Linked DNA regions of Homo sapiens: region 2 is linked to region 1. Evidence: fine-mapped expression QTL. A gene starts in region 1. The other region holds a variant in brackets. All regions are shown on one strand. Distances are from middle to middle. Region 1 holds the start of POMC (proopiomelanocortin). Region 2 overlaps EFR3B (EFR3 homolog B).

The links. PIP is the estimated chance that this variant, and not a neighbour inherited with it, causes the effect. A credible set is the group of variants that fine-mapping cannot tell apart.
Region 2: its variant is the best candidate, but not a certain one, in a credible set for the expression of POMC in whole blood (INTERVAL, PIP 0.86).

Annotation. Positions count from the first base shown.
Region 1 is chr2:25,167,255-25,170,237 of GRCh38, reverse strand. POMC (proopiomelanocortin) reads left to right here and starts at 1,658. Exons shown (of 3, transcript NM_000939.4): 1 at 1,658-1,740. RefSeq lists cis regulatory regions at 1,356-1,381, 1,382-1,555, 1,621-1,633, an enhancer at 1,542-1,561 and a promoter at 972-1,784.
Region 2 is chr2:25,127,354-25,129,853 of GRCh38, reverse strand. It overlaps EFR3B (EFR3 homolog B), which reads right to left. Exons shown (of 23, transcript NM_014971.2): 6 at 1,522-1,671. Among named protein-coding and RNA genes, the nearest start is that of POMC, 40 kb to the left of the region's middle. The variant C/G (reference allele first, on the strand shown) is at 1,030.

The DNA of each region.
Region 1 (2,983 bases):
AAAAGAAAGAAGGAACCCAGTTAAAGAAGTTGGGTCCATTTGGATTTTTCCTGGTTTGTTTTATCTGCTGCCACCAGCAGCCTCCTGAAGTTACAAAAATAACACAAAGTAAAATAAGGCAAAACCACCATCTGCTTGAAAGAGTTTACAAACCTGATGGTGGTCGTGGGGTGGATGGAAGATTAAAAAAATGGGGACAGAAGTGAATTAGTGCAAGCCACTTGCACTGACAAGATGGGGATGGACTTCTGTGGAAGGCAGAGGAGGTCATGCCTCATGCCCCTGGTAGGAAAAGTGGCCAAAGAGGGCTTCAGAGAACAGGGGCTGATGGATGGGCTACATCTTGATGTGAGTCAAGCTCCTGGATGGCTGGAGAGAGGAAGGATGTTCTAGTTGGGGGAACAGCTTGGACAATGGAGACCCAAGAAAGCCATGTTCTAGCAGTGTGAATGTTGTGGATGCTGAAGTGCCAGGATGCAAGGTGGAGAACTGGGAAATGGCCCTGGAAAGGGGCCAAAGCCGGGTGATGAAGCACCTTGTCTACTGTGACGGAGCTTGGATCTCTCTTGTGGTCCAAAGGGAAAGGATTGCTGAATGTAAAGCCAATGTCACCAGAAAAGCTGAATCCACAAGAGAGTCCTGGAGTCCAAAAGAGCATCTCATGGGGAATCAGGAAAGTTCTGGCATTTGGCAGATTAAGCAAGTGTCTTGATTTGAAGTCCAGTTTAGTCCCAATACTCCCTCCCACACCCACCACATCGCACAATTTGGTTTTGTTTATTTACTCCAGGTTAAGGTAGAGTCTCTTAGCTTGGTTTGAGTGCTGTACTCTTCTCTCTGGTCTGATATTTGGAACTAAAGCCAAGCCAGAACTCCAGGGCCAAGGGGGATGTTGAAAATTGTCTGAGTCCCCAGACCACCCTGCCAGCTCATGGCAAAGGGAGGGATCAGAGGCCACAGGGAAAGCACTTCAGCTGCTCTTCACAGCATCACCCTCTCCCCATTTAATGGTTTAGGTTAACAGGACTTTTTCCTTGAGGCTTGGGACACGGAAGGGAGCCTCCCCTAAACCAGGCCCTTGGAGAGCAGGCCCCAGGGGAGCAGTGCAACTCACCTTCACACCCACAAGACGGCTCCTGACTTCTGCTCCCTCCTCCCCTCCCCAAAGTGGAACAGAGAGAATATGATTCCCCACGACTTCCACATCACAGTTTCCAAACAATGGGGAAATCGGAGGCCTCCCCGTGTGCAGACGGTGATATTTACCGCCAAATGCGAACCAGGCAGATGCCAGCCCCAGCACGCACGCAGGTAACTTCACCCTCGCCTCAACGACCTCAGAGGCTGCCCGGCCTGCCCCACACGGGGGTGCTAAGCCTCCCGCCCGTTCTAAGCGGAGACCCAACGCCATCCATAATTAAGTTCTTCCTGAGGGCGAGCGGCCAGGTGCGCCTTCGGCAGGACAGTGCTAATTCCAGCCCCTTTCCAGCGCGTCTCCCCGCGCTCGTCCCCCGTCTGGAAGCCCCCCTCCCACGCCCCGCGGCCCCCCTTCCCCTGGCCCGGGGAGCTGCTCCTTGTGCTGCCGGGAAGGTCAAAGTCCCGCGCCCACCAGGAGAGCTCGGCAAGTATATAAGGACAGAGGAGCGCGGGACCAAGCGGCGGCGAAGGAGGGGAAGAAGAGCCGCGACCGAGAGAGGCCGCCGAGCGTCCCCGCCCTCAGAGAGCAGCCTCCCGAGACAGGTAAGGGCGCAGCGTGGGGGACCCGTGCTCTTTCCCCGGGATCCCCTGTCCCCGTCCTCGCGATGCAGTCGGCCGGCTCCGGCTCCGAAGGCGGACCTGGGCGCCTCTGGCTCTCCGCGGTCCCGAGTTCTCGACAAACTTTCTGCGCCGACTGCGGCATGAGAAGCCGCCAGTAGCTGAGCTGGAGGGCCCACGTCCGGCCCCTGGGCGGACGGCCGCGAAGCTGCAGGCGCTGTCTCCAGGGAGCCGGCGGCCTCCTCTCCCCCAGGGGCTCGCGGCGGTCCGGAGGCTCCGAGAGCTTGCTAGGAGGTCTTGGGACAACCCGGTCTTTTTTTTTTTTTTTGAGACGGAGTTTCGCTCTTGTTGCCCATGCTGGAGAGCAAAGGGGTGATCTCTGCTCACCGCAACCTTCGCCTCCCGGGTTCAAGCGATTCTCCTGCTTCAGCCTCCCGAGTAGCTGGGATTACAGGCATGCGCCACCACGCCCGGCTAATTTTTGTATTTTTAGTAGAGACGGAGTTTCTCCATGTTGGTCAGGCTGGTCTCAAACTCCCGACAACAGGTGATCCGCCCGCCTTGGCCCCCCAAAGTTCTGGCATTACAGGCGCGAGCCACCGCCCCCGGCCAGCCCGGTCTTTTAGTATCTCTTGCTCCCAGTTTCCAGGATAGGTGTCACATCTTGAAAGTCAAATTCCATACACGCTATCGCAAATTAATGTTGGAAACGGGGCAGCAGAGAAAAGGATAAAAGTCATAATGAACGCCCTGCCTTCCGGATTTTTTCGGATTCAGACCCCTGAATCCTTGTTTCCTTGCCCACCTTAGCGCACCCGAGGTGGCCGCGCTATGATAATTACATGATAACTGGGTCAATTACAATGCAGAATAGTTGGGTCTCTTCTCTCCAAGACCTAGCTGGGGTTAAAAACAGGTGGCCGGGGCGGGAGCTGTCCTAGATCCTGAAACGCACTGTCTAGTTTCGGATGCCCTCAACAGAACCGGGGTGGACGGTTTATGGCGCAGATCCTGGGTTGAGGGCACGGGCAGCCATTTGGAATGATCAAGGCTCAGGTAAGGGGCGTTTCCAGCGAAGGAGAGACAGTCCACTTGGCATTTGGATTCCCCAAATTCTTCATGTTTAAATGGGGCAGGGAGGGTTCTTACAGAATGGCTGGAAGGAGCCAAGGAAAATAAAAGTGTGTGTGGATTTTTTTTGTGTGTGTGTCAGTTTATAAACTCTGCA
Region 2 (2,500 bases), 40 kb after region 1:
AGGCAATAGGGGAGGCGTCACAGCTGTCAGAAATTAAATGGGGGTAAAGAAGCCCCCACTGGGGGAAGTGGGGGAAGACCGGAGAAGAAAAGATAAAGTTCTTTTTCTGGAAATCCTTAAAGATTTCCAGATGTACCACTGTGGGAAGGATGCTCTGAGCCCCATGGGCCAGGTGAGGTGTAGAACATGTGTGTCTTGATGCACCTAAGACTTCAGAAGGAAAAGGAGATGGGAGATGAAGATAGGAAAGGGAGGCAAAAAACAAAACAGAAGTGGAAGAAAGGAGAGGAAAGAGAGGGAGGGAAAAGGAAAGGCACAGTGGTTGGCTCAGGCAAGAGTCAATGATACTCAAGTCACAGGGAGTGGGCCCACATCTGGACAGAACAGGAGCCGGAGGACTCCCAGCCCAGAGACCACAGCAGCTTGTCAGTGAGATGCTATTCCAGAAACAGCCACCAGATGGCATACGAACCCCACCCCACCCCACGCCCCACCCCACGCCCCGCCCCCGCCCCCGCCCCCGCCCCCGCCCCCGTCGACCCGAGTCTAGCTCTAGTAGCCTGGGATCAACCGACCTAACTAGCCTAGTGCACAGATAGCCCAGGTGGGACAGCAACGTGGGCCTTTCTCCCCATTCCATTTCACCGAGGGGAAAAATGAGGGTGCAGGGACAGGAATGAATCCCATGCTTAGGGGATCCAGGATTAAAACCCAGTATCTGCAAGCTCTTACTGAGTGGCTGCGGGCTGGTCAAGCATGCACGTTTTCAGGGCCTGAAATAGCATCAGGAAGCAACAGAGGAAGGAAGGTCCAGATGGAAAGTCCGCAGTGATCGGAGCCATGAAAGGCATCTTTTTTTTTTTTTTTTTTTTTTTTTTTTTTTTTTTTTTTTTGAGACGGAGTCTCGCTCCGTCGCCCAGGCTGTAAGTGCAGCGGCGCGATCTCGGCTCACTGCAAGTTCTGCCTCCCGGGCTCCCGTTCTCCTGCCTCAGCCTCCCGAGTAGCTGGGACTACAGGCGCCCGCCACCA[C/G]GCTCAGCTAATTTTTTTGCATTTTTTTTTAGTAGAGACGCGGTTTCATCGTGTTAGCCAGGATGGTCTCGATCTCCTGACCTCGTGATCTGCCCGCCTCAGCCTCCCAAAGTGCTGGGATTACAGGCGTGAGCCACCGCGCCCGGCCCACAAAAGGCATCTTAAAGCCTCCTTGGCCCTGCTTCCAGGGAGACAAAGGTAACCAGACTCTTGGTTCTGTGTGTTATTACCAACAGATTTACCCACCAGGGAGCCCAGCACCAACACTGTCCTCCTTCGGTAACGCACATGTTAAGGGACACTGTGGGCTGGCACAAAGTCAGACCCATGGCTTCTAGGGAGCCAGCTTTGGACTCACTGCAGAACAAGCCACAAAGCCATGTCCCTGGCCTTGTAGCTGAGTTTTACTGACCAACCCAAACCATGTGGTTCCCAAGCAGCCCTTGGAGGGTTGATTATATCTACTGTCCTGCCCCATCCCGGCCTGCTTACCTCTCTGCCTCCTCTACATGCTGTAGATTGAAAAGCAGTGATGGAACGATCTTATCCATGTGCTGTGGGTCCCAGATATTGGCCTGCAGTTCATCATTCACCGTCTTCCTCACCACCCCTTGCAGGCCTTTGATGCCTGACATTCGAATTCTGTAAGGAAAAGGGTGAAGTGGGACTCGGAAGTCCTCTAGCCCTGAGAAGTCCAGCTTCGGTGGCTAAGAGAAGAGCACAGCTTAGGAGTCAGGGATACATTTGTCCATCAGAAGGCAGAATGGAGACCAGCTGCTACTCTCATGAGACCTCCTGGTGCTGGCAGACATGAGCCCAGGAAGCCATGTCTTTTTAATCATCTTGGAGACTCCCAGGCTGCCCTTGCCCTGGTACCATCTGGGCTCCAGCCCTAGGGTGCTGGATGCTCCAGCTCCCCATCTTTAGTACTTAGCTGGGGTTGTTCCAGCTTGGGCCCAAGATGTAAGAGCTCAAAACGCTGCCAAGAACTGATGAAGCAGAATCCGAGGCTGTGAGCAACTTGCGGGGGCAGGGGGAGGCGGATCCAGAGGGAGAGGCACAGAGCTGCAGGCTCTCTGGGCACAAAGGGGTGTCGGCTTGGAGCTAGGGTTAACCAGAGGGGAAACTGAGTAACAGCACAGCAGGAGCCCCTTTTGTACACCCCCAGTCCCTGCTATGTGAACCCAGGGTCAGCACAGCTCTGTGGGAGGGAGCCCTCTTTACTAGCCATTTATTTCAGACTGAAGTTTCTTTCTTTCTTTTTTATAAAACCTTTTTTCTGGTTATAAAATAATACATACTAATCATAGAAAAGTATAGAGAAGAGAAGATTTACCACTACCACCACCACTACCACTGTTATCTTTGTTATCAAACATAACTGTTATTGGCATTTTGATGTAATTCCTTTCTTCTGTGCATAATATATAACAGAATTAAGAACCTATTGCATATTTTATTTGTATTGGCT